3 separate regions of the Homo sapiens genome follow, and all the other regions are linked to region 3. Evidence: fine-mapped expression QTL. A gene starts in region 3. Each other region holds a variant in brackets. All regions are shown on one strand. Distances are from middle to middle.

The links. PIP is the estimated chance that this variant, and not a neighbour inherited with it, causes the effect.
Region 1: its variant is the best candidate, but not a certain one, in a credible set for the expression of CAPN11 in unexposed skin (GTEx, PIP 0.81).
Region 2: its variant is the best candidate, but not a certain one, in a credible set for the expression of CAPN11 in skin (TwinsUK, PIP 0.70).

Annotation. Positions count from the first base shown.
Region 1 is chr6:44,322,545-44,325,304 of GRCh38, reverse strand. No RefSeq gene overlaps it. Among named protein-coding and RNA genes, the nearest start is that of AARS2, 11 kb to the right of the region's middle. The variant T/C (reference allele first, on the strand shown) is at 1,140.
Region 2 is chr6:44,200,484-44,203,243 of GRCh38, reverse strand. It overlaps a transcript of MYMX not described here. Among named protein-coding and RNA genes, the nearest start is that of MYMX, 15 kb to the left of the region's middle. RefSeq lists enhancers at 1-690, 691-1,690, 1,691-2,691. The variant ATG/G (reference allele first, on the strand shown) is at 1,247.
Region 3 is chr6:44,157,351-44,160,110 of GRCh38, reverse strand. CAPN11 (calpain 11) reads right to left here and starts at 1,291. Exons shown (of 23, transcript NM_007058.4): 1 at 1,247-1,291. The coding sequence starts at 1,262. It overlaps LOC107986599 (a long non-coding RNA gene), which reads left to right and starts at 1,508. Exons shown (of 3, transcript XR_002956350.2): 1 at 1,508-1,526. RefSeq lists an enhancer at 1-114.

The sequences.
Region 1 (2,760 bases), 170 kb before region 3:
TGGCCAACAGGGTGAAACCCCATCTGTACTAAAAATACAAAAATTAGCTGGGCATGGTGGTGCGTACCTGCAATCCCAGCTATTCAGGAGGCCGAGGCAGGAGGATTGCTGGAACCCAGGAGGCAGAGGCTGCAGTGAGCCGAGATCGAGCCACTGCACTCCAATCTGGGCAACAGAGCAAGACTCCATCTCAAAGTAAAATGAAATAAAATTAATAAAATAAAAAAATAAAAAATAGATGTTTACCTGTCCTATAATTTCATAAAAATTGAATCATTAAGTACACACTCTTGACCAGACAAGGTGGCTTATGCCTATAGTCCCAGTACTTTGGTAGGCCAAGGCAGCAAGATTGTTTGAGTCCAGGAGTTGGAGACCTACCTAGGCAACATAGCAAGACTCTGCCTCCACAGAAAATTTAAAAATTAGCCTGGTGTGGTGGTGCTCACCTGTAATTTCAGCTACTCCAGAGGCTGGGGTGGGAGGATTTCTTGAGCCCAGAGTTCGAGGCTGCAGTGAGCCACAATAGTGCCACTGCCCTCTTGCCTGGGAGACCAAGTGAGAGCCCATCTCTAAAATAATAATAGTAATAATAATAATTAGATTTTTAAAAATAGATGTTTGGGCCAGTCTCAGTGGCTCACACCTGTAATCCCAGCACTTTGAGAGGCCAAGGTGAGTAGATTGCTTTAGCCCAGGAGTTTGAGACCAGCCTGGACAACATGACAAAACCCCATCTCTAAAAAAATACAAAAATTAGCCGGGCATTGGTGGTGTGCACCTGTAGTCCCAGCTACTTGGGAGACGGAGGAGGGATGATCGCATGGACCCAGGAGGTAGAAGTTGCAGTGAGCTGAGATCACACCACTGCACTCCAGCCTGGGCGACAGAGCAAGACCCTGTCTCAGAAAAAAAAAAAAAGATGTTTGCCTGTTCTATAACTTCTACAACTTCACAAAAATGAAATCATTAAGTATGTACTCTTTTGTGTAAGGCTTCTTTCACTGAGCATCTTTTTAGATTCATGTATATTGTGTGTATATCACTGGTTTGTTCTTATATTGCTGAGTTGTAGTTCATTGTATGAATATATCACAGTTTGTTTATCCATTCCTTTGTTGATGGACACCTGGACCGCT[T/C]CAAGTTCTTGGTTATTACAAGTAAAGTTGCTATGAACGTCCACATACTAGTCTTTTTGAAGATAGCTCTTTTCATTTCTTTTGGTGAAATACTTAGAAGAGGAATTGCTAGGTCATGGGTAATATTATTCTTGATATGGTTAGGTTTACTGCCACCATTTTGCTATTCATTTTCTGTTTGTTCTATATGTTTTTAGTTACTCTGTTCCTCCATTTGTAACTTTTTTTTGAGTTAACTAAGTAATTTTTGTAATTCAATTTTAACTTCTCTATTAATTTTTTTTTTTTTTTGAGATGGAGTCTCGCTCTGTCACCCAGGTTGGAGTGCGGTGGCACGATCTCAGCTCACAGCAACCTCTGCCTCCCGGGTTCAAGCAATTCTCCTGCCTCAGCCTCCCAAGTAGCAGGGATTACAGGTGCACACCACCATGCCCAGCTAATTTTTTGTATTTTTAGTAGAAACGGGATTTCACCATGATGGCCAAGCTGGTTTTGAACTCCTGACCTCAAGTGATCCACCTGTCTCTGCCTCACAAAGTGCTAGGATTACAGGTTTGAGCCAGCGTTCTATTGAGCCACCTTCTCTATTAATTTTTAATGATCTTTTGGCCAGGGACAGTGGCTCACACTTGTAATCCCAGCACTTTGGGAAGCTGAGGCGGACAGATTGCTTGAGCCCAGGAGTTCAAGACCAGCCTAGGCAACATGGTGAAATCCTGCCTTTACCAAAAACACAAAAATTACCTGGGCATGGTGGCACGCACCTGTAGTCCCAGCTACTAGGGAGGCTGAAGTACGAGGATTGCTTGAGCCTGGGAGGTCAAGGCTGCAGTGAGCTGTGAGTGTACCACTGTACTCCAGATGGGTAACAGAACAAGACCTTGTCTCAAAAATAAATAAATCAAATTAAAAGTTAAATTTGTAATGATATTTTGTTGCACTTTTTAAAATTGAGGTAAAATTTACATAACACTAAAATAAGCATTTTAAAGTGTACAATTCAGAGGCATCTAGTACATTCACAATGTTCTGCAACCACCACCTCTATCTAGAGCTAAAACATTTTCATCATCCCGAAATAAGACTCTGTATCCATTAAGCCACACTTCCCATTCTCTTCTTCCTCAGCACCTGGAAACCACCAATCTGCTGTCTCTGTGAATTTACCTATCCTGGACATTTCATATAAGTGAAATCATACAACATATGCCCTTTTATGTCTGGCTTCTTTCATTTAGAGTAATGTTTTCGAGGTCCATCCCCATTGTAGCACGTATCAGGATTTCATTTCTTTCTATGATTGACTAGTATTCCATTGTATGCACATACCACTTTCCATTTATCCATTCATCCACTGATGGGCATTTGGGTTGTTTCCCCCACAATGAATAGCGCTGCTCATTGCATGATTTTTTTAGTGGTTGCTGTAAAGCAGAAATTTTCAGATGTTTAGTTTCAGGTTGTGCTCCTAAAAAGTATTGAAAACCCCCAAAGAGCTTCTATGTGGGTAATATCTATTAGAAATTAAACAGGGAGGCCAGGCGCAGTGGCTCATGCCTGTAATCCCAGCACTTCGGGAGGCCGAGGCAGGTGGATCACTTGAGGTCAGGAGTTTGAGACC
Region 2 (2,760 bases), 43 kb before region 3:
CCAGGGCTCCACTGATCTAAACACACTCCCAGGATGTGTGTGAGAACCCCTGGGCTGCACAGACAGCTGGAGAGAGTCTCGAGGGGAGGAACGGCAGGCCCTGATGGCTCCCTCTGAGAACCACCAAAGTGCGTACTCCACGGGGAACCGTGGAGGCCCCACCAAGCACTGGCCCACATCTGTGGTTGCTGTGACCTTGGCTAAGTCACATCCCACTCCTCCCAGCCTCAGTTTCCATAGCTGTGGGATCTTCCAGCGGTGAGATCCTTGGACCCTGGGGTAAGGCCCAGATACTCCTACCCCACCGCTGCCTCTTGTAAACAGAGTGAGAGATTCCTGGGCCTGGGATGATGAGGCAGGTAAAGGAAACTAGCTATTGTCTCTGGGAACAATGGGGAACTCCAGAGGGGTTTGGGCAGGGAGGTGGGGGAGGGGCAGTGGCTGGCTCCAAGGAATGGATCTAGTCTTAGTTTACTCTCTAACCCCTGACTCTTCCTGGGATTAACTGCCCTCTCCACCACCTTCCCATCCTCACTTCCATTAGCTCCACCCCACCTCCCTTGCCTGCCCCAGACATTTTCTCCAAGGCGGGAACACTAAAGCTGCTGTGGATTTCCTCAGCATTCCTGGAAAAATAACCATCTTCGTCAGGAACAAAGCCGCCAGGGAGCAGTTTCTTCCAGTTCCCAGTTTAGCCTTGTGTCATGGATCCTTCCTGCACTTCCCTGACCTCTGCCTCCCATGCTCTGCAGGCAACTTTGAGGAAACTGACCAAATCTCCTGTTTCCTTAAGGTCAATTGAAAAAAAAAAAAAATAGTATCTGGATACCAACCTGTGAAGGTGAGGACTGTGGGCTGGCACTAAGTGGCCCCTGGGATCTGCCTTTGTGGTCCACTCCCCAGATGCCCAGGGCCATCCAGAAACATTCTGGATGATGCCCATACACAGGCATCAGTTAATCGGGCCAGACATGACAACATACATTGTGTGCCAACTGTGTGAAAGCCCGTGCAAGGCTCTGGGTCAATGGTGAAGAGGACAGACACACCAAGAGCCACCAGAGTGACAGACAGCAGATGGGGAAAGCAGGAATGATAGCAAGAGTTGCACTAGAGCTAATGGGTTCTTGCCAGACCCACGGGCACCGAGAGTCCTGCTCTTCCCACCCCTTCTGCATGTCTCCACCCAGGCGCTCAAGAGCATGCTGCGACAGGCCACTGCCTCCGCATGACTTGCATTAAAAAC[ATG/G]TGTCTGGGTCCCAGCTCGTGAAGTTGGCTGGAGGTGCTTCTGAGTTGGTCGCTCTGGAACCACATGCTGGCTCTGGGACCCTCTCTCAGGGCCCCTCTGGATGCCAGAGCAGGCTGTATATTGCACAGCGGGAGTTGAGAGTGGCACCTTCCGGAGCTGTGCTATGGGGTGGTCCCCCTCCCTAAAATGGGAATTATAATAATACCTACAGCTGACCAGATAAAGAGATGAGGAGAATGTGAGGCTCAGAGTTTGGCTACCAGGTAGGTGTCTCATAAATATTAGTTTCCTTCCTTCCACCCTTATGTCAGAGGCCAGCAGAGAACTTGCTGCTCCTTGGAGGCCTGATGCAAGGCACCCTGCTGCTCATGGGCAGCACTTAGATCAGAGGCTGGGGCTCTGTTAATGCTTGAAGAATCAAGGGAGGCCTGCGGAGGCTGTGGCCCCTCGCTCTGTCATGTTTCACTGGCCTGTTGTCCTCTGGGAAATCAGCATTGGTGTGGGGCCCTTCCTGTTTGTGGGAGGTTGAGGACAGCTCTGACCCCTAAACAAGGAGTTCTGACAAGGAGCCAGGGAGGCCTCATCAAGGGCAGGGTGTGTCAAGGGGTGATGTTACCAAGGAGCAGGTGGGGAGACCTTGGGGCCAGGAACCAGAGCCAGCCAGGTATAGGCAGTGTGGGTGGGGAATGGGCGGAGTTCTAGCCCAGGAACTGGGAGCTCAGCCCTGTCATAATCACAGTGCCTTTCTGCCTGGGACAACAGGCCAGAAACCACCTACCTGAGTGAGGAGCTAGGGCCTGAATGTGACCACTGAAAGAAGAGGTGATGCGCTTTGGAGGGATGGTCCCTTATCCATGACCATCATTCCTCTGCCCACCAATTCCAGGCAATGATAGACCCATGCACAGGCGACCGGGCAGTGGGACACACACTGGATATGCCTGTAAGACATGAGCAAAATGGGCCAGGGAGTTGGAGGTTGCCTGAAAGAGTAGCTAGCACAGACAGATGGGACTCCCCAATCCACAAGAACAGTTGTTCTAGCCAGGGAGGAGGAGGTGGCCCAGGAAAGGAGCTTGTATAGAATACAGCCATTGTCCCCACTGCAACAGCTGTTGCCCACTGCCCCCCACCCCCCACTCAGCTGACAGGACCCTGAGGGTGGGAGGTGGGGGCCCTACCCTCTCTGGCAATGCCTCAGAGGGAACAGTCAGTTGTTGGGGCAGGAGACAGCTGTTTCCTGGACAGTGAGAGGGATGAGGGTGGACAGAGGAGCTTGAGGAGAAGGTAAGGAAGGACATGCCTAGCATATCTGATGTGGGGAGGGAGAGCAGCAAAAACCACAATGCCACAGGGAAAAAAATCTAATAAAAACCTGATGGCCAGGCGCGATGGCTCACGCCTGTAATCCCAGCACTTTGGGAGGCTGAGGCAGATGGATCACCTGAGGTCAGGAATTTGAGACCAGCCTGACCAACAAGGTAAAACACCATCTCTACTAAAAATGCAAA
Region 3 (2,760 bases):
CAGGCTTGGGGTGCGGTGGCACGATCTCGGCTCACTGCAACCTCCACTTGCTGGGTTCAAGAGATTCTCCTGCCTCAGCCTCCCGAGTAGCTGGGATTACAGGCGCCCGCCACCACGCATGGCTAATTTTTGTATTTTAGTAGAGACACGGTTTCACTATGTTGGCCAGGCTGGTCTCGAACTCCTGACCTCAGATGATCCACCTGCCTTGGCCTCCCAGAGTGCTAGGATTACAGGCGTGAACCACTGTGCCTGGCCTCTCTCAGTGATTTTCTAAATGCAATACATTGTTATTAGGGGACTATAGATTTAAGGACAGTTTGATTTCCGGCACTGGGAAAAAACTAAGATGTTGTGTCAGGGAACTTTAAAAAAAAATAAATACTAATAAGTAATAATAATAAATAAATAAATTATATTTTGAGATGAGGTCTTGCTATGCTGACCAGGCTGGTCTTGAACTCCTGGGCTCAGGGCACTTCTGAAGAACAAGGACTGGGTTTGGGGTCACCAGCTAGGCCTAAACTTCCTAGGGTCAGGTAAACAGGGAGGGCCTGAGAAGCTGGGAGGCTGGGTCTAGGGGCCCATGGTCTCACGGTGCCCCAGGCTGAGGGTGAGGTACAGGGCTGACCTTCTGCTGGCCAAGGCTGGCTGCCCTCTGTGCACCCTAGCCCCACAGGAACAACTCAGTTCTGCCCAGCCCTCCCCTTCCCCCCAGCCCACTCTCCCCCATCTCCTGGAGTCTGGTCCCAGGCTTGCCTCAGGTAGTCCTGCCCCTGCCACCCTGAGGATCTCATCTTCCTGGGCTGAGGGACCTGCTTTTCTAGGCTTAGGAGAGGTTCTCTCTGTTCCCTAAAGTTTTCTTCTCTACGTGGGCTTTTTCACACAAACCCTTTTCCCCAGCAGCCATGACAGTGGGATGGCCGGCCCCTCTCCTCTCCCCAACTCCAACTGTCAGTGGAGAGGAGAAAGAGTTCCTGCCCGGCCTACCACCCAGTCTGACCACCAGTGGCCTATCCTTCCCCAAACAGTCTGAGAACGAGGCCCAGGTCCTGTCCTTAGGGAGCATCCAGTCTGATGGAAGAGTCACTCTCTGTACCCTCAAGGGGCATCCAGTCTGATGGAAGAGTCACTCTCTGTACCCTCAAGGGGCACCCAGTCTGATGCGGGACACAGCTCCTCCCCTGGGGGGAGGCTCTAGCCTGCAGGAGGTACAGGAGTGGGGCAAGGCCCCATGAGTGCCTACCTGGGGAGTACAGCATGCTGGTGGCTAGCTCGGTGCTTGACAGTTGAAGGTTCTGGTGGGAGGGGGAGAAGAGACCCTCCCCCCAGAACTCTCTCATTGCAGTGGGATTCCTAGGTCAGCAGCCGGTTTAACAGCTGCCTTCCCTTTTCTCCTTCTCAGTAACCCAGCCCCTTACCCAGCTGAGGGCTACCCGCTTTAGGGACAGATGACCCAGCACCCCTGCCTTGCACAGCCTCCACCAGCCTGGCTGTCCTCACTGTATCACGGTCATCCCATCAGGGTAGGTCCCAGTCCCTTTTTTTCAGCCCAAGGTTTCCAGGAAGGGGTTGTCCCTGACACACCAACCTGACCTTTACATCCAGAAAGCCTTCTCATTCCCAAAAGCCCCTTTCTCACTGACATGGCATTTTTCCTGTGTTGCTGTCTTCACATGGCACCCTCCTCTGTGTCTCTTCTTCTTATAAGGACACCAGTCATATGGGGCTAGGGTCCCATGCATTTCAGTATGACCTCATCTTAATTGAACGAATTACATCTGCAACCACCCTGTTTCCAAATGAGGTCACATTCTGAAGTACTGGGGGCCAGGACTTCAACATGCCTTTTTGGGGGACACGATTCCACCTGCAACACTCTCCTTGCCTAGCCCCAGTCTGGCAAGGTTAGGCCACTGGTCTGACCACATGTCCTGCCTCTGCACTGGAAAGTGGGAATGCTTTGAGCTAAGAACTCTGCTCCAGAGTGCAGTCTTCTCTGGAGTGTATGATGGCTGAGGACAGGGACTGTCAAGGTCATCCCAGTGCCCCTCAGCCCTGCCTGGTGCTAATCAGGCACAGAACAGGTGTGAGAGCACCCAATGGGATCAGAGAACCTTGTTCCAAGCTCTGAAACAGGAGCTGACCTTGGGCGAGCCCTCCCCCTTTCTCCTTTCTGGGACTCAATCTCCTCATCTACGAGAATATTAATTATGGTTTGTTATTATGTGCCAAACACTGGGCTAAGAACTTCCTACTTATTTAATCCTTAAAACAGCCAGAGGCCATGACATTGCTATTCCCATTTTATAGATGAGGAAAGTGAGGTCTAGAGGTATGATGCAACTTGCCCAGGGTCACACAGCTGTTAAGCGGTCGAGCCAGGATTTAAACTAATAACTTCAGATTTTTTTTTTTTTTTTTTTTTTTGAGATGGAGTCTCGCTCTTTTGCCCAGGCTGGAGTGAAGTGGTGCAATCTCAGCTCACTGCAACCTCTGCCCCCCGGGTTCAAGCGATTCTCCTGCCTCAGCCTCTCAAGTAGCTGGGATTACAGGTGCCCACCACCATGCCCAGCTAATTTTTGTATTTTTAGTAGAGACGGGGTTTCGCCATGTTGGGCAGGCTGGTCTCGAACTCCTGACCTCAGGTGATCACTCGCTTCGGCCTCCCAAAGCGCTAGGATTATAGGCATAAGCCACCGTGCCCGGCCATAACTTTAGCTCTTATCCGTATCTTCTGCTGCCCCCAGCTGTGAAAGG